2 separate regions of the Homo sapiens genome follow, and region 1 is linked to region 2. The links come from fine-mapping of genetic effects on gene expression. A gene starts in region 2. The other region holds a variant in brackets. All regions are shown on one strand. Distances are from middle to middle. Region 1 holds the start of LOC284009 (a long non-coding RNA gene). Region 2 holds the start of METTL16 (methyltransferase 16, RNA N6-adenosine).

Region 1 (9,919 bases), 93 kb after region 2:
CTTGTAATCCCAGCACTTTGAGAGGCCGAGGTGGGTGGATCACGAGGTCAAGAGATCGAGACCATCCTGGCCAACATGGTGAAACCCCGTCTCTACTAAAAATACAAAAATTGGCTGGGCTTGGTGACGTAGTCCCAGGTACTTGGGAGGCTGAGGCAGGAGAATCGCTTGAAACCGGAGGTGGAGGTTGCAGTGAGCCGAGATGGCGCCATTGCACTCCAGTGACAGAGTGAGATTCCATCTCAAAAATAAATAAATGAATAAATAAATTTTCAATACAGTGGTGGCATTGGTTTTGTTTTTTTTTTTTTCTAAAACGGAGTTTCACTCTTGTTGCCCAGGCCCAGACTGGAGTGCAGTGGCACAATCTCGGCTCACTGCAACCTTTGGCTCACTGCAACCTTTGGCTCCTGGGTTCAAGCAATTCTTCTGCCTCAGCCTCCCGAGTAGCTGGGATTATAGGTGCGTGCCCCCATGCCCAGCTAATTTTTGTATTTTTGGTAGAGACGGGGTTTCACCATGTGGGCCAGGATGGTCTTGAACTCCTGACCTCAAGTGATCTGCCTGCTTCGGCCTCCCAGAGTGCTAGGATTACAAGCATGAGCCACCGCGCCCGGCAGGTGCCATTGGTTTTTAAAGTGGAACTTGAGTCCCTCTAGTGGGTAGGGTATAATTCACCTTCCCAGCTTGAGATAGAATGGAAGATGCCAGTCGTGATTTTCTTGGAACCAGCTTTGAAATCCAGTCTTCTCATCAGCGCCGGTGTCACCCTCCCCAGCTAAAAGGCAGTGCTTAGCTCGCCGCCGGCTTGGTCCCGACATCAGCCACGATTCAGGAGTCCTCCTCCTCTGCCCACGTGATCTTAGTGGCCCTGATCCTTCCTCGCATGTCATCTCATGGCTGTGGTTCACCGGCTGCTTTATCTCAAGCCTCAGCCAATATAAACTCAAACTACAAGTTGATGATGTTTCTGCCCTGCAGTTCTTTCCAGCCAAGAACACAGTGCCCCCAGGGTCCTCGAGTTGTCATGAAATAAATAATTGTGCAGGTCTGCTTTGGGTACCACAGGTACACGAAGGACGTTTAGCAGTTGGAGGAGTTACATCTGATAGCCAGAACAAAGGCAGTGCGGTGCGGCTGGAAAGAACGTGGGTTCGGCGTTCAGTCCTAACTGCAGTTACTGTGTGACCTTGAGCTGTGTGACATAGCCTTTCTGTATCTTCGTTTTCCTGGAGATGCCTAAACTATCTTGTGGGGTTCTTATTTTTTTAATTAAAAATTTTTTTTTTCTTAAGAGACAGGGTCTCACCCCGTTTCCTGGGCTAGATTGCGGTGGCGCAATCAGAGCTCCCTGCAGCCTGGAAGTCTTGGGCTCAAATGATCCTCCCTCCTCTGCTTTCAGAGTAGCCGGGACCACAGGCATACACCATTGTGGCTGACTAGTTTTAAACGTTTTTTTAGAGATGGAGGTCTTACTATGTTGCTGGGGCTGATCTCAAACTCCTGGGCTCAAGTGATGCTCCTGCCATGGCCCCCCAAAGTGCTGGGATTATAGGCGTGAATGACTGCACCTTGCAGGGTTGTTTTAAGTGCTGGACATAACACACACAAAACCCTTTGTGTTTTCAGTGCTCTATGATTGGTAGCAGAAGTTGTGGAAATTTTCTCTGAGTTCATTACAATGCATGAGGTTTAATTATTCGGATAACTTTCTTCTCTTTTCTATGCTTCCTTTTTCTTGCAGTCACCACCAAGTAAGCGAAGAAAATTAGAGAAACCGAGAAAACCCATAACATTCGTGGTGCTGGCGTCCGTGATGAAGGAATTATCCCTCAAAGCATCACCTCTGCGCTCGGAGACGGCGGAAGGCATAGTCGTTGTCACGACATGGATTGAAAAAATTCTCACTGATTTGAAGGTACCTGCTTAACCATATTGACGAAGTACTCATAATGATCCTTCTCTTTTTTCTTTTTTCTTTTTTTTTTTATTGAGAGTTTGGAGAGAGGGGAAACGTGATTTCCCACAAAATTCTGTTTTTCCTCCAAACAGGTCCAGCATAAACGAGTTCCCTGTGGAAAAGAGGAAGTCAGCCTTTTCCTAACGGCCATAGAAAACTCCTGGATTCATTTAAGGAGAAAGAAAAGAGAGCGTGTGAGACAGCTGAGAGAAGTTCCCCGAGCTCCTGAGGACGTCATTCAGGCCTTGGAAGAGAAAAAGCCCACCCCCAAAGAGTCTGGCAATAGCCAAGAACTGGCCAGGGGCCCCCAGGAGAGGACCCCCTGTGGGCCTGCTCTGCGGGAAGGCGAGGCTGCCGCTGTGGAGGGCCCGTGCCCGAGCCAGGAGTCCCTGTCCCAGGAGGAAAACCCGGAACCCACGGAGGATGAAAGGAGTGAGGAAAAGGGAGGGGTGGAGGTTTTGGAAAGTTGTCAAGGCTCTAGCAACGGAGCCCAGGACCAAGAGGCTTCTGAGCAGTTCGGCAGCCCAGTGGCTGAAAGGGGGAAACGTCTCCCAGGAGTGGCCGGACAGTACCTGTTTAAGTGTTTGATAAACGTTAAGAAGGAGGTGGACGATGCCTTAGTGGAGATGCACTGGGTTGAGGGCCAGAACAGGGATCTGATGAACCAGCTTTGCACCTACATACGTAACCAAATTTTCAGGCTTGTTGCAGTTAACTAGAAACCTCCTGCACAGTTGGAAACGTGTTGATAGTAACTTGCTTTGGAGTGGCCTGTGGGGTGGCAAGAGGAATCCTACCAGCGGCCCATTAGTAGCACGATGTGGAATTATCTTCGAAAACAAAAACCTATGAATCTGTCCCCCACCTCCCCCCGCCTCCTTCCCGCTTTTTGAGTTACAGGGAGTCGTAGTGTGGTCATTTACAAGGAGGAATTGTGGTCATCAGTAACAACAGAAAGCCCTCAGTAAACTCCCGAGGGATTGCAAGCTGGCTCAAGCTGGCCCCTCAGCTCTGGACTGCCTCTGCAAGGTCAGAAGGGTTGTTTGTGGAGTCTGGGCTGGGCAGCACTGCCTAGAATATCATGCTGTCTCTGTCACCCAAGGGTGTTTCTTGAGGAGGGGTGGCTCTCTCTGCCTCCAGCTGGAGGCCCTGGTACCCTGTTCTAGGTCACTCTTCAAGATGGGGCCTACCTTGCATCAATCCCACAAAGGGAGCTGTATGGTGGGTGGTGGGGAATCTGGGAGAGAAACCTTAGTAATGCTGGGAAGGAGCAGCAGAGTCTGGGGACCACCCGGTAAATGGCACATTCCTGACACCTGGCTGTTTTGATGTTGCTTATTTCAGAAGCAGAATTAGGTAAGCAAAACTCCCCGGTGTGACTGAGGCACACAGAAGGCACCCATACCCCCACCTCCAGCCTGTTGACAGTACCATTTTGTAGCAGTTTTACTACTGTGTGATTTTTGTTTGGACATCTGAAGTAGAGCTTGTTTTGTTTTTAAATAAGAATATTCACAAATTAAAAACCAGCGGTCCTATTTGAATCCTGGGGTTAGCTGAGTGAGCGGCTGATGATAGAAATGAGAAATAGAACAAAATAGTATGTGCCGTAGGTAGCTTAAGAAAGTCTCAGATATTTTGTTGCTGATCAAATACTGTTTTTTTGTGGCTTCACTTGTAATCCCCCCTGTACTTACCTACTCACATTGGAGAGTTCTGAGGCCGGAGTAACTGTGTCCTTGAAACACGTTTCTAATTGGAATGCCAGGGTTCAGTAGCCGTCCCCCCGGAAAGGGGTGACCTTTTGCTGTGCTTGATGTTGCATCAGCAGCCTAGGGTTCTGTTTAGACTAAAATCTTGGCCAGAGCTCCTTGCCATCTGCTAAGAAGACTGGGGCTGAGTAGTTAAGCCAGCCTTCTGAGAGGTGGCTGTTGGTCAGGACGGGAAGCTGGTGACCTTGGCATGTCTTGGCAGCAGCTAGATCAGGCCCTCGGCAGAGACACAGGAAGCGGAACTGCTGTGCCTTAACTTGGCTGTGGAGCTGGAGCTGGAGAAGGCAGCATACTGACCAGTGGCTTTTTGATTGATTGTTTGTTATGAGGTGGAGTTTTACTCTTGTTGTCTAGGCTGGAGTGCCGTGGTGCGATCTTAGCTCACTGCAACCCCCGCCTCCCGGGTTCAAGCGATTCTCCTGCCTCAGCCTCCCAAGTAGCTGGGATTACAGGCACGCGCCACCACGCCTGGCTAATTTTGTGTTTTTGGTAGAGATGGGATTTCACCATGTTGGCCAGGCTAATCTCGAACTCATGATCTCGGGTGATCCGCCCACCTTGGCCTCCCAAAGTGCTGGGATTACAGCCGTGAGCCACTACTCCCAGCCTCTGACCAGTGTTCTTAACCTGGTCCGTGGACCTCCAGAGAGTCCATGTACCTCCTAGAGTTACTTCTAAAAGCTCTGTGAGCATGTGTGTGTGTGTGTGTGTGTGTGTGTATTTTTTTTCCTGGAGAGAGGGTTCCCAGAACCCTCAGACACAGACAAAGGGGTCAATAACCCACTAAGGATTAAGAATCATTATTCTAGTCCAAGCATTCATGTGTCAGGCTGCAAAAAACAATACCCAGGGTCACACAGAGCCAAGACTCAATTCAGGACCGTGGATTCCCCTGGTCTAGAAATTTTCTGCTGTGCCAGCCCACACCACCCCACTGTCCTTACCTCGAGTGAATATTACATTTGAGTCATTTGCTGGGCCCAAACCTAGTTTCCTTGGTATAATTTTAGGATAATTGTTTAAGTGGCAACTATTCATTCAGTAAGTAGTAAGTACTTATTGTTTGCTTGTTTCATTATGAAAGAGTGGCACATGCTCATTAAAGATTTGGAAAAATGAAAGTCAAAACAACAAAATCACCCCGAGTCCCAACCTTCTGTAACATAACCACTCTTGGCATTGGCGTGTTCCTTTCTAGTCTCTCTGTAGACGGGGTGTGTGAGTGTGTGGGTTTAACTTTGGTTGTCCTCATGCTGCGTATTCAGTTTTGTATTCTGGTCCTTTGTTCATTTAACATCTTACAAGTATTTGTCCATGTTGTAACAGTAGTGTATTAGCTTACACTCCTTGCCTGTTCAAAATGTCTTTCAGGCACAGCACTGGCCTTTAAGCCTGTGTCGTAGGGATTTCCAGAGAATGCTCTGTGTATTGAAGCACAGAAGGTGTTTCTGTGTCTCAGTGTGTTTCTGTCCCTAGGTTTAAGGCTTCATGTCATGGAGGAGATTTTATAGATGTCAAGCTAATGACCTTAGAGTTTTAAAAAATCCGTGACCGTGGCCAGGCGCAGTGGCTCACGCCTGTAATCCCAGCACTGTGAGGCTGAGATGGGCGCATCGCATGAGGTCGGGAGTTTGAGACCAGCCTGGCCAACATGGCGAAACCCCGTCTCTACTCAAAATACAAAAATTAGCCGGGCATGATAGCACGTGCCTGTAATCCCAGCTACTCGGGAGGCTGAGGCAGGAGACTCGCTTGAACCTGGGAGGTGGAGGTTGCAGTGAGCCGAGAATGCCACTGCACTACAGCCTGGGCGACAAAGTGGGACTGTCTCAAAAAAAAAAAAAAAAAAAAAAAAAAAGGAACCCATGAGCAGGCCAGCTTTCAGTCTGGAGCCGAGTGCCTTCTGTGCATTTGGATGTTTCCATTTCCTTCCCTGAGAAGATTTTCTTAGGCTACCTAGTGAGAGAACATTGAAAATATTTTTAAAGGACATCTAAGCATTGTTTTGGTCATGCATATGCTTTATAATTGTGTGTTGTTTCATAGCATATACCTCTGGTACAGGTGGGCAAGTTTTTCTTTGAAGAAATGGGTTATTGACTCATATGTCATAACCTTGAGTGTTACTCTCCCGGTGTCC[A/G]GAGGTCACATTCATGTTGCGGGGTTGGTATGAAATTAAATCTTGGTGATGTGACCCTACATTCTCTTCTGGTCCCTAGAATCGGCTTCTGGTCTCCTGATAACTGAAGTGGAGACAGAAGTTGAGCCTGTTGCCCAGGCAAACTAAAGCTGCTTTTGTTCTTCGGAATCTGCTTTGCCTCCGTCAGCCTGCTTCCTTCCCCACACATGCTGGCCGCACTGTCCCCACTCCAGACCTCTGCTGTGTGTCCTGGGCAGGGCCGCGTTTTGGCAGTACCCTTTCAACTCATCCTAAGCTTCGTGTAGATTACTTTAGTATATATTTTTTATAAAACATAAAGCCTTTCCTCTCGATGGAAATCAAAGCTTACCATGTGAGCACTCGAACTTCTAAGTTGTGACAGGAATAACAAAACTGCAAGGAGTGGAAAAGATGGAAAAGCCTGTGGGAAATCCGAGGCCTTTTGAAAGAAGGGAGCTGATGACTTCACGACCAGCTCCTGGAGCCCCTCCTTTCTGCTGAAGCCGCGGCATTTCCCTCCGTGGCCACACGAGGGCACCCTTGGCCCTTTTATCAAAGCGCCTTCACTTCCCCGTGGGAATGGAGACAAGTCTGTCCACGGTGTTTTCTTGAAATACCCAGTTGCTACCCAGATTTGTATTTTTATGTAAACAAATACATTTTCACAGAAATAAAATTTGAAAAATAAAAGTAGAAAGAGAAAAAAACACTAGCCATGGTCTCTTTACCTGGTATAATCCCTTTCGACTTTTTAATGTTTTTTTAATGGTCCCAGCTGACTGTTTTTTCTGTTCTTTCCAGCTGTCCTTCTACTCTAGAATATATCCAGGTTGGGCCAGTCCTTTGGATCCAGTTTTTCTTGATATCTAGTTAATGAAGATACTGGAGGGGAAATGCTGAGTGATCTTCAAACAGTAACTTTCCAAAAGCCAGGAGTAATACCAAGATCTCCAAGAAAGCAGCTGGGTTCAGAAGGCCGGGTGCGGTGGCTCACGCCTGTCATCCCAGCACTTTGGGAGGCAGAGGCAGGCAGATCACAAGGTCAGGAGTTCAAGACCAGCCTGACCAACATGGTGAAACCCTGTTTCTACTAAAAATACAAAAATGAGCTGGGCGTGGTGGTGCATGCCTGTAATCCCAGCTACTCAGGAGGCTGAGGTAGGAGAATCGCTTGAACCCGGGAGGCAGAGGTTGCAGTGAGCCAAGATCGTGCCACTGCACTCCAGCCCAGGCAACAGAGTAAGACTCAGTCTCAAAAAAAAAAAAAAAAAAAAAAAAAAAAAGCAGCTGGGTTCAGTGTTCTGTTGTTGACCCTTGTTTGGGGTTCCTCTGGTTGGCTGGCTACCATGCATGTCGTGTGTTGCTTATATCAGAAGGTGAGGGTTCTGTGTGGTGTAGATGCTGTCGGTTAGCCGGCCTTGCTTCTCACAAGGGGCGTTTCTGGGGAGAACGCTGGGGTCTGTGTGGGCTCAAGGAGGATCCCGTCTCCCCTTATGTTTCTGGTACAGGATCAGATGTGGCCGCCCAGCAGTTGTGCACATAGGAGGAGAAGGGGCCAGGTGGGAAAAGTAAGTCAAGAGCCCTCTGGAAGAAGGAGCATTTCAAAGGTGCAGCAGGTTTATGGCGATAGAGGGGGTCCCCTCAGGAAAGGGTCACGGCCTTTTTAGGGAAGTTGGTGCACAGGAGACTTGGTTTGCTGAATGGGCACTAACCTCGGTAAAACCCAGAAGAGGCTGAATAGAATGAACTGACTCCTGCCTCCTGCGGGCAGCACTGATGTGTCGAACCTCTCTAGTAATCCCGAGTACGCGGCTCTCGGTATGAGTGCCAGCGCAGTATCAGAGGCCCGGACGGCGCCTGCCCCACTGATGATGGGCATCACACGTGCCCCGGCGTTCCTGCTCTGTTCTGTGACATTCACATGCTCTGCTGTGGCTCAGCCAAATGACTAAAACAGCGGTTGGTGTTTTAAATTCCTGGTTGGAGCAGCTAATGCTGCCTGGTGGAGGCTGTGCTTTGTACTCCACGGACTGTGTTGTGACTACAGAACGCCCTTGCCCCTCGAGGTGCCCTTTGAGATGTAGCCTGTCTGCCGGTCTCAATCCAAGCAGAAGCGTGGGTTTCCTTAGGGAAGAGGAAGATTGTGGGTGCTTCCCTCACAGGGGAACTGAAAGGAGAAGGGGTAGAGGAAAAGTACAGTCGGACTTGGCAGAACTGGCTCGCAAATGGTGCTCTGAGAGGGCCAGGCAGGTGTAAACCCAAGACTCTTTTCCACCCACCCTAGGGGAGCAAGAGGCAGGAAAGAGCACAGACTTCGACGTTCAGACCTGGGTTCCCGTCCAGTTCCATTCCTTGCACAGGGTAAGTCCGTTTACTAAGCCTTGTCTTCCTCGTGCCACAGATGAGGAATTGTCGCTTCACATTTAGAGCAGTGCTTAAGTGCAAGAAGGACTGAAATCTCAGCAGAGGGTGGAAACACTTGCTCCTCTTCCGATTCTTTGAATTGTCCATTTCCATTCAGAAAACCTTCTACCAGTAGACTCAGATGAAAAGGCTGAGACCTCACGTGTATGTCTGTAGGTGTAAAGTACCACCGTTGACAAAGAGCAAAACCCATACTTGATGTGATGGAGGGAGGACTGGGGGCCAATATTGATGGTCCACCTTCCACACACACTGTCTCATTTAGTAACCCCGTCAGCCTGTGTGACGTTCCTAGGTGGTGGCTGAAGGAAAGGGAAGCTCAGAGAGTGTCAGTGACTTGCTGTAAGGTTATCCACGGAGCTCAGTCATAGAAATGGGATTCGAACTCAGGTCCAAGAAGCCAAGACTGGGATCTTGTGCCGGAACTCAAAAGTCTATAGCAAGTGCCGCACTTCATGTGGAAATGTACTTCCAGGCTCGTCTGACCCACCTCTAGGGAGGGGGCTGCAGTGATACAACACGGGGAAGGAAAAAAGCATCTTTCACCCTCACAGTTTAGCACTTCAAGGTAATATTATTTTCCAGCCTATGATGAACGAGTGACATGTAGTCAGTGGAATTACTTAGAATTCTTCATTTATGCTACCAAATCTTCACGGAACTTTGTATTTGGCAGTAGTGCAGATAATTAAGTAGTTAGTGAAAGCGCAAAATAAAATATCTAGTGAAAGTACATGTTGGGGCCAGATGCAGTGGCTCACGCCTGTAATCCCAGCACTTTGGGAGGCCGAGGCGGGTGGATCACCTGAGGTCAGGAGTTTGAGACCAGCCTGGCCAACATGGTGAAACCCGTCTCTACTAAAAATACAAAAATTAGCCGGGCGTGGTGGCTCACACCTGTAATCCCAGCTACTCGGGAGGCTGAGGCAGGAGAATCGCTTGAACCCGGGTGGCGGAGGTTGCAGTGAGCCGAGATCGCGCCACTGTGCTCCAGCCTGGGGGACAGAATGAGAAAAAAAAATTATGCTACCAAATCTTCACAGAACTTTGTATTTGGCAGTAGTGCAGGTAATTATGTAGTTAGTGAAAGCGCAAAATAAAATGTCTAGTTAAAGTACATGTTGGACCAGAATCAATAGGAAATAACTGATTATTAGGTGAATTATTCTTTGGCAATACATAATTGTATAATGAAAGAGAGGTTTAATTATTTTTTTAAAATAAGGCAGCTCCAGATATTTCACTTACAGAACAACACAAAACTGATGTGCTTTTTGAGCTTCCTGGAGAAGGTAGCAATTGCCAGAAAAACAGCCAGGCCTCCTCCCCGGGCAGGGTGTGTGAACTAGTATCAGTCTGGGAAGAGGAAAGGCTGCCTGCCATCTGGTGGACCCATTCAGGGAATGTGGCCCCAGAATCTAAAAACCAGAGCCAGGAAGTTCCCAGCTGGGGCACTTGGCTGGCTCGAGGAGCCAGTCAGGCCCCAGGGAAATGGCAGCTTGTGCTGCTGCTGTCCAGAGAGAGAATGAGAATGTGGCCCAGAGGGCACTGCTGAGCAGGCCCCCTCCTGGGACACTGGTGAGCAGGGGCCTGTGCCCAGAG
Region 2 (9,919 bases):
ATATCTTTTTTTTTTTTTTTTTTTTTTTGTCATGGACTCTTGCTGTTGCCCAGGCTGGAATGCAGTGGCGTGATCTCAGTTCACTGCAATCTCTGCCTCCTGGGTTCAAGTGATTCTCCTGCCTCAGCCTCCCAAGTAGCTGGGATTACAGCCATCTACCACCCCGCCTGACTAATTTTTTGTATTTTTAATAGAGACGGGGTTTCATCATGTTGGCCAGGCTAGTCTAGAACTCATGACCACAGGTGATCCACCCTCCTCAGCCTCCGAAAGTGCTGGGATTACAGGTGTAAGCCACTGCACCTGCCTGGATATAGCTTTTGTGACAACTATAATGGCTATTAGATCCCTGATATGTAAACTTGGTCCCTAAGAAGGAGGTGGATACATTTACATAAGGAAGCTAGAGTCTTCTAAGCTAGAAGAAATTGATACTCAATGATTACTTTCTGAAATACAAAGTTAGAGAGACCTGTGGCTGTTGACAGGCTGGCTGTGGCCAAAGGACAGTGACAGGGAAGGGCCACAAAGTCCTTGAAATAATTAATTTCAGTCAAGAGGGAGTCCAGTCTGATGCCCTCAAGGATTGATTCCAGTCCAGTAGGCAGCTGATGCTGAAAGCAGCTCTGATAACTTGCTAGGCAACATTTCATAATTAGCAGCATTATTCACTGGATGTGCAGAATCAGTTTCCTGCTACAAAGAGGTAGCAAAGGATGTAACTGGCTAATTGGACATCTGCACTGTCCTTGCTGTGGTATGGAAGTTTGAGAGACTTCTCTGACCAATTACATCCTTGGACATTTCAGGGTAAATTTGGAAAAAGGCAGATGTTGTTAATCTATTCTGTGGAGTCTCCAGATAATTTTCATTTTATATAAAAAAGTTTTCAAGGATATGTATTTATCATTGTACCACAATATTTGGGAATAGGTCATACCAGATACATTGGAAAGAACCTATGTCCATCCACAGGGGAATTAGTTTTTTTTTTGTTGTTGTTTGTTTGTTTGTTTGTTTGTTTGTTTTTGAGATGGAGTCTTACTCTGTTGCCCAGGCTGGAGTGCAATGGCGCGATCTCGGCTCACTGCAACCTCTGCCTCCCGGGTTTAAGCGATTTTCCTGCCTCAGCCTCCCGAGTAGCTGGGATTGCAGGTGCCCGCCACCACGCCCAGCTAATTTTTGTATTTTTAATGGAGACGGGGTTTGACTATGTTGGCCAGGCTGGTCTCAAACTCCTGACCTCAAGTGACCCACCTGCCTTCGCCTCTCAGAGTGCTGGGATTATAGGTCTGGCCAACCCAACCTGGGCACGAATTAGTTTTTTAAAAAGTGGTATATCCAGCTGGGTGCGGTGGCCCAGGCCTATAATCCCAGCCCTCTGGGAGGCCGAGGCGAGTGGATCACGAAGTCAGGAGTTCGAGACCAACCTGGCCAACATGGTGAAACCCTGTCTCTACTAAAAATACAAAAAAATTAGCCAGGCGTGGTGGTGGGCACCTGTAATCCCAGCTACTCGGGAGGCTGAGGCAGAAGAATCGCTTGAACCTAGGAGGTGGAGGTTGCAGTGAGCCGAGATCACGCCACTGCACTCCAGCCTGGGCGACAGAGAGACTCTGTCTCAAAAAAAAAAAAAAAAGTGTTATATGCATTCAATGGAATACTGTGCACCTATCACAAAGAACAATAAAGAGCTATATTGTTGGAAGTGGAAGAATCTCCAAGAGTTATATTTGAGTATATGTGCATGTGTGTGTGTGTATATATATGTAATTACATATATATACAAATATATATTATTATTTGTATAAAAATTATTTGGTTATATATCCTTATGAGATATAGAGGTTTAGTAGTAAGGTTACCCAAATTTGATGGTGCTTGGCTGTGAGTGGTGAGATTTTAGATAATTTTTGTCTTTCTGATATCTTTATGTATTATTTAAATTATTTAAAAATTTTCAGTTATTAAAATGTTTTATCTTTATGGAATACTTAAAAAAAACTGACCAGAGAAGTTATAAGGAACAATATTATTATTATTAGGAACTCACTATATACTAGACATTCTGCTGTTTTATATGCATTATCTGATTTAATTCTCACAACCCCATGAGATTATTATCCTATTTTGTAATATTGAGCAAACTAAGCCTTCAAGTGTTTAAGCAAATTGCCCATACTCACAGGGTTAGTAAATGGTGGGGGCAGGATTAAAGGCCAGGTTTCCCAGCTGCAGTGCTACTAGGGTCTCTCTGGCCCGACCTACAGGTAAACTGGGTTGCTCTTTGGAGCTAACAGAAAGTTACCAATATCTTAAATACAATCACTTCAACCCCACCAGTCCTATCTCCGAGGCCATCTTTTCTTTTACCTTTCCAGCAGCATGCACTAAATAAAATGCCATAACTAGTATCAAAGCCACTACCAACCAAAGATGGAAAACTTTCTGTGGTAATATGTTACATTGGTTGCTGAAATGAACCATGCCTTCCAGTATTGGAAGGGACCCTGGCATAGTCCCCTCCCCTTGAATTGGGGCTAGCCCTTCTACTTGCTTTAACCAAGAATATAGCCAAGGTGCTAGTTCTGCACCTACGCTTTAAGAAGGCCTGGCAGCTTCCACTTTTGCCCTTTTGGGAGCCCCGAGCCAACATGTAAGAAGTATTCTGGCGGGGCACGATGGCTCATGCCTGTAATCTCAGTACTTTGGGAGGCCGAGGCGGGTGGATCATCTGAGGTCAGGAGTTTGAGACCAGCCTGGCCAACAGGATGAAACCCCGTCTCTACTAAAAATACAAAAAATTAGCTGGGCATGGTGGCGGGCGCCTGTAATCTCAGCTACTCAGCTACTTGGGAGGCTGAGGCAAGAAAATCGCTTGAACCCAGGAGGCAGAGGTTGCATGCAGTGAGCCGAGATGGCGCCATTGCACTCCAGCCTGGGCAATAAGAAACTCCATCTCGGGGGAAAAAAAAAATGTCATCCTACTCTGCTAGACAAATTACATGGAAAGGCCACGTGGACAGGGAGAGAACTTGGACTACAGGGAGAGAGACCCAGTTCTTTCAGCGGAACCAGCCCCCACTTGTTGCTATGACCACTGGCAAGACCAGCAGAACGGGTGGGCTAATCCCAGCCCAGATTGCAGAACTGTGAGCAAGTAAAATGGTGGTTGTTTTAAGTCTTACGTTTTGGGGCGGTTTGTTACACAACAGATTATGAAAACACCTCCTCAGCTTTCCTTGGGTGACTACTGGTACTCACTTGTGTATAAGTCTCCATTCCTTAATCCTTACTATCTCCCAATTTTATGGTAATAGTTTGCCAGAAGCGTTCACATTAACGACGAGGACGTAGGCAGGCCCCCCCTTTTTTTTTTTTTTTTGAGACAGAGTCTTGCTCTTTCGCTCAGGCTGGAGTGCAGTGGTGCGATCTTGGCTCACTGCAACCTCCGCTTCCCGGATTCAAGCGATTCTCCTGCCTCAGCCTCCCGAGTAGCTGGGATTACAGGCGCCCGCCACCACGCCCGGCTAATTTTTGTATTTTTAGTAGAGACGGGGTTTCACCATGTTGTCCAGGCTGGTCTTGAACTCCTGACCTCAGGTGATCTGCCCGCCTCAGCCTCCCAAAGTGCTGGGATTACAAGCGTGAGCCGCCGCGTCCGGCCGGATCCTCAGTTCTTTCGCTGTAAACGAGAGTACTCTTCCCCAACCCACAGGCTTATATCTCTTACAATTCAGTGAGTGAGACATCGGCTGAGGACACACCTGTTGCACAAAAAGGGCTCACTGCACGCCATCACACCCAAGTCTCGTACCCTCATCTTCATAACCTGCCCAATCCCAGTGAGTGTGAGAGGTAAGTCTGCAGCAGGGCCCGGAAAACTTGTTTCTTTTTCTTTTAAATAAGTTTTCTCGCGAATTCGAACGCATGTCCTCCTCCTGCCATACCTCAAAGGACTCCGCTCGTCACCACGCCCCCGCGCCTTCTGTTAGGAGCAGCAAACCCCAGGTGTCGCGAGGGTTTCTTCTTTCTTCAAGATCAGCCACAGGTCGCGCGAGAGGGATGTGTCCAATCACGAGGCTAGATGGCTTCACAAGATGGCGGCGCGCTGGGAGCGTATCATCTGCGTTTCTAGGAGCTTCGCTATGCGGCTGCTTTAAGATTCTAGGGTTGTACAGGCCCACGCCAGACACGACGTCTGGCAGGAACCTCGGCCTCAGAGGTGGGTCACTTATATCTCTCACGCAGATTTACTATCATGGGTCACTTAACCCGTGGATCACACGGGTTCCTCATTCTTGAGTTTTGGGCTAGTGAGGTGCCGACTTCGGGGTCTAGGAGGGGAGACCTGATGTGGCTGTGTGTGCGCACGCGGGGGTGTTGAGAGTGGATGAGTGGGAGGAGTTGGCGAATAGAATAGAGACTAGGACTGAAGTAGGAAAGACTCCCCGGTGTTTAGGAGGTTTAGAGAGATCCAAAACTGAGGCGGGAAGACAAACTGAGCTGATAAAATGAGGGCATGGAAAGAACGGCAGTGGCAGGACTAGTGGGAAACGTCGGATTTATGAGAGAAGGCGAAGAGAGAAGATGTAGATTGGTGTGGAAGTGGGAGGGATCTGTGCAGAAAGAATTTGAAGTTCTGAAATTGGAATTTAGACTGTTTTACAGGCTGTGTATCAAGAGAGTGGTAGTTGAAGAGGGTTAATGGTCAAGAGGAACCAAGGAAACAGAAGCATGGAGATGAGAAAGAAAAAAAAAAAAAGGGAAAGCCTCATTCTCAGGGTTCTACTATTAACTGTGGCTTTCTGGACTGACTCAAGTAACCGGGAAGAAAAGTTCCAGTCCATGGGCTGAGCTTTTTTTGAAACTCAGTGAGGGTGCTTTGTGTCGGTGGTCCAGACAGGGAAGAGTTCTATCGTGGTTTCAATCAACAAATACTTGAGTGCCTACTCTCTTAGGCCCTATTTTAGGCGTTGGGATATGCGGTGAACAAGACAGACAAAATATTTACCCTCTTGAAACTTACTGACGGGAGATTTTTTAAAGTAAGTAAAATATATGGAATGCCAGATGGGTAAATTCTGTGTAGAAAATTGAAGCTAGAGCCTGGGTAGCAAAGCCAGACTCCCTTTCTACAAAAAATGAAGTAAATTAACCAGGTGCAGTGCTCTGTACCTGTAGTCCCAGCTGCTTGGGAGGCTCAGGCGGGAGGATTGCTTGATCTCAGGAGTTGGAGGCTGCAGGGAGCTATGATTCCATCATTGCACTCTGGGCAACAGAATGGAAGACCTTGTCTCAACAAGAAGAAAAAAAAAAGAATTGATGCCCAGTTAAACTCTGAAGAATAGGTTATATTTAGCTAAGAACTCATTGCCTATATTGGGAGGTTAGTTAGAAAAGAAGTGGTTGTATTTACTCATTCTGTATCTGTTCTGACCAGAAAAGTTGAATAATGTAGGAAATGAATCGAATCTGCCATGTCTGTAATTTAATTTGTTTCACATATATTCAGAGTATTATGTTGTGTGTGCACTGATGTCAGCTATGTAGTCTGTAGAATTTTCCTTAATGTGTGGCAGAGCCCTAACATGCCACTGTCTCTTGAAGTCACTGTTAGGATATGGTGACTAAAGTCAGCAACAATGTATATTTCAAAATAGCTAGGAGAGGGCTTGAAATGTTACCAATACATAGATATAAAAAATACTCAAAGTGGTGAATACCCCATATACTCTGACTTGATCAGCACACATTCTATGCGTGGAACAAATACCGCATAAATGTCACATGTCCCCCATAAATTGGGAAAATATTTTCCATCAGTTTAAAGAAATTACTCTTAGTTTACTTTTTTTTGTTGCTTGCCAGAATCACAAGAAAGAACATTTTCTTTTTCTTTTTTTTTTTTGAGACAGTTTCACTGTCACCAAGGCTGGAGTGCAGTAGCACGATCTTGGCTCACTGCAACCTCCACCTCCTGGGTTCAAGTGATTCTCCTGCCTCAGCCTCCCGAGTAGCTGGGATTACAGGCACCCACCACCACGCCCAGCTAATTTTTTTTTTTTTTTTGAGACGGAGTGTTGCTCTGTCACCAGGCTGGAGTGCAGTGGCGTGATCTTGGCTCACTGCAACTTCGGCCTCCTGAATTCAAGTGATTCTCCTGCCTCAGCCTCCCAAGTAGCTGGGACTTCAGGCACATGCCACCACACCCAGCTAATTTTTGTATTTTTAGTAGAGATAGGGTTTCACTATGTTGGCCAGGATGGTCTCCATGTTGGCCAGGCTGGTCTCACAAACTCCTGACCTCAGGTGATCCTCCAGTCTTGGCCTCCGAAAGTGTTGGGATTATAGTCGTGAGCGACTGTGCCCGGCCAACACTTTAATTTTGGATATTTTCTTTTTAATAAAGTCTATTATTTGTATTTGTTTATTTTGAGACAGGGTCTCACTGTGTGGCCCAGGCTGGACTGGAACTCCTGGGCTCAAGCTATCCTTGGCATCCCTAGTAGCTAGGAACACAGGCATGCACCACCTTGCCCAGTTGATGTTTTCTTGAGAACTGGGGGCCATCCTAGTTTTATGCTCCCCTCTTTCCTGATGGTCAGTAAAGGGTATGTCAATGCTAGGAAATTAAGACAGGTATATAGTCATTTTTAGTCATAGTGTGAGGGGCAAAATGTAGTAACAGTATGCTGAAAAACTTTCAGGTGACTACTAATCCCCTCAAATTCTGAATTGTTTACTCAAAAAATATTTATTGTATACAGGTTGCTGGGGGTATAGTAAAGACTAGGATGGATATGGTTGCAGGTCTATGTGTGACATATGCAAATTAATTACACACCCAGTAGTAAACTGAAGATCTCTGAGGGAGAAGCAGCACAGGGTGCTTTGAAAGCGTGTAGATGGGCATCTGATTGGATTGTGGGGTCAGAGAAAGGCTGCCTGAGTAAATGATGCCTAGGGTGTGATTTGAGTAGCTAGTGGACCTTCAGAGGTGAAAGGCGATGGTGGGAGGTTGAGGAGAGTCTTACAGGCAGTAAGAATAGGAGATGGTGAGACAGACTACCATGCAGCAGAGAAAATGGAAGAAGACCAGTATGTCTGGAAGGGGAAAGTGGCAACAAATGAAGTTGGAGGGACAGATAAGGCCTGGATTATGCCTGCCTTTTTAATGATTTTAGACTTTTTTAGCTTAATAGCTTTGGGATGCCACTGAAGGGATTTAATAAGGAAATGTTCACATTTGCATGGGGGGAGTGGCTTGTCTGCTGAGTGAAAAGTGGCTGGTAGAGGGCAAGAGTGTTTATGAAGAGATCAGTTTGAGACTCTTAGAGCAACCCAAGAAAGACATGATAATGACCTGGGCCAGAGAGGTGGTGTTGTGAAGGGTGAAAAGTGGGATAAGGTCAAGAAATAATTGGGAGATGGAGTATTCAGGACCTGGTGTGTTGTGAATGGGGGAGGCAGCATGGAGAAGGTGTTGAAGATTTTTGATGTGTTTATCACAAGAAAGATAGCAGTGCATTTGGTGAGATAGGGAAGATGAGAAGGACCAGTTTGGGGTGGGTAGAAGTGATTTAATTTTGCACATATTGTACATGTATTTTTGAGCCCTTCAAGTGAGAAATATGGTAGGCAGTTGGATATGTGATTTGGAAAAGTCTGGAATGAAGACAACAGTTCTTTTCTGAAATTGGTTTAATTTCCAGTGTAGGAAGCTGTCAAAAAACCATCTGAAATAGCATTGACAGATTTATGACTATGTAAAATTATGTCTCTAACAAAGATTGCAAAAGAAAAATATTTATTGCTAGGAGATGTTATAATAGAGGATTTGTCTTTTTTTTTTTTTTTATTGATCATTCTTGGGTGTTTCTCGCAGAGGGGGATTTGGCAGGGTCACAGGACAATAGTGGAGGGAAGGTCAGCAGATAAACAAGTGAACAAAGGTCTCTGGTTTTCCTAGGCAGAGAACCCTGCGGCCTTCCGCAGTGTTTGTGTCCCTGGGTACTTGAGATTAGGGAGTGGTGATGACTCTTAAGGAGCATGCTGCCTTCAAGCATCTGTTTAACAAAGCATATCTTGCACCACCCTTCATCCATTCAACCCTGAGTGGACACAGCACATATTTCAGAGAGCACAGGGTTGGGGGTAAGGTCACAGATCAACAGGATCCCAAGGCAGAAGAATTTTTCTTAGTACAGAACAAAATGAAAAGTCTCCCATGTCTACCTCTTTCTACACAGCCACGGCAACCATCCGATTTCTCAATCTTTTCCCCACCTTTCCCCCTTTTCTATTCCACAAAACCGCCATTGTCATCATGGCCCATTCTCAATGAGCTGTTGGGTACACCACCCAGACGGGGTGGTGGCCGGGCAGAGGGGCTCCTCACTTCCCAGTAGGGGCGGCCGGGCAGAGGCGCCCCTCACCTCCCGGATGGGGCGGCTGGCCGGGCGGGGGGCTGACCCCCCCACCTCCCTCCCGGACAGGGCGGCTGTCCGGGCAGAGGGGCTCCTCACTTCCCAGTAGGGGCGGCCGGGCAGAGGCACCCCTCACCTCCCGGATGGGGCGGCTGGCCGGGCTGGGGGCTGACCCCCCCACCTCCCTCCCGGACGGGGTGGCTGGCTGGGTGGGGGGCTGACCCCCCCACCTCCCTCCTGGATGGGGTGGCTGGCCGGGCAGAGGGGCTCCTCTCTTCCCAGTAGAGGCGGCCGGGCAGAGGCGCCCCTCACCTCCCGGTCGGGGCGGCTGGCCGGGCGGGGGGCTGACCCCCTCACCTCCTTCCCGGACGGGGCGGCTGGCCGGGCAGAGGGGCTCCTCACTTCGCAGTAGGGGCGGCCGGGCAGAGGTGCCCCTCACCTCCTGGACGGGGCGGCTGGCCAGGCGGGGGGCTGACCCCCACCTCCCTCCCGGACGGGGTGGCTGCCGGGTGGAGACGATCCTCACTTCCCAGACGGGGTGGCTGCCGGGCGGAGGGGCTCCTCACTTCTCCGACGGGGCGGTTGCCAGGCAGAGGGTCTCCTCACTTCTCAGACGGGGCGGCCGGGCAGAGATGCTCCTCACATCCCAGACGGGGCGGCAGGGCAGAGGCGCTCCCCACATCTCAGATGATGGGCGGCCGGGCAGAGACGCTCCTCACTTCCTAGATGGGATGGCGGCCGGGCAGAGACGCTCCTCACTTTCCAGACTGGGCAGCCAGGCAGAGAGGCTCCTCACATCCCAGATGATGGGCGGCCAGGCAGAGACGCTCCTCACTTCCCAGACGGGGTGGCGGCTGGGCAGAGGCTGCAATCTCGGCACTTTGCGGGGCCAAGGCAGGCAGCTGGGAGGTGGAGGTTGTAGCGAGCCGCGATTACGCCACTGCACTCCAGCCTGGGCACCATTGAGCACTGAGTGAACGCAACTCCGTCTGCCATCCCGGCACCTTGGGAGGCCGAGGCTGGCGGATCACTCGCGGTTAGGAGCTGGAGACCAGCCCGGCCAACACAGCGAAACCCCGTCTCCACCAAAAAAATACGAAAACCAGTCAGGCGTGGCGGCGTGCGCCTGCAATCGCAGGCACTCGGCAGGCTGAGGCAGGAGAATCAGGCAGGGAGGTTGCAGTGAGCCGAGATGGCAGCAGCACAGTTCAGCTTCGGCTCGGCATCAGAGGGAGACCGTGGCAAGAGGGGGAGAGGGAGAGGGAGAGGGAGACCGTGGGGAGAGGGAGAGGGAGGGGGAGGGGGAGGGAGAGGGAGAGGATTTGTCTTAACTGGGGAGATTAGGGAAGGAAAGATCTTCCTGAAGAAGAGGTGCTTGAACTGTGAGCCCAAGAATGACTAAGAATTTGCCGACTGAAGAGAGGGAGGAAAAAACGTTACAGATAAAAAGAATAACCTGCATAGGAGGCTGAGGCAGGAGAATCGCTTGA

The links.
Region 1: its variant is fine-mapped to the expression of METTL16 in whole blood (TOPMed, PIP 0.91).

The regions. Positions count from the first base shown.
Region 1 is chr17:2,412,730-2,422,648 of GRCh38, reverse strand. METTL16 (methyltransferase 16, RNA N6-adenosine) reads left to right here. Exons shown (of 10, transcript NM_024086.4): 9 at 1,745-1,918; 10 at 2,053-6,600. The coding sequence ends at 2,679. LOC284009 (a long non-coding RNA gene) reads left to right here and starts at 7,213. Exons shown (of 3, transcript NR_028335.1): 1 at 7,213-7,461; 2 at 8,178-8,254. The variant A/G (reference allele first, on the strand shown) is at 5,873.
Region 2 is chr17:2,506,065-2,515,983 of GRCh38, reverse strand. It overlaps METTL16 (methyltransferase 16, RNA N6-adenosine), which reads left to right and starts at 4,096. Exons shown (of 10, transcript NM_024086.4): 1 at 4,096-4,225. RefSeq lists enhancers at 3,896-3,945, 4,016-4,225, 8,218-9,128, 9,129-9,919.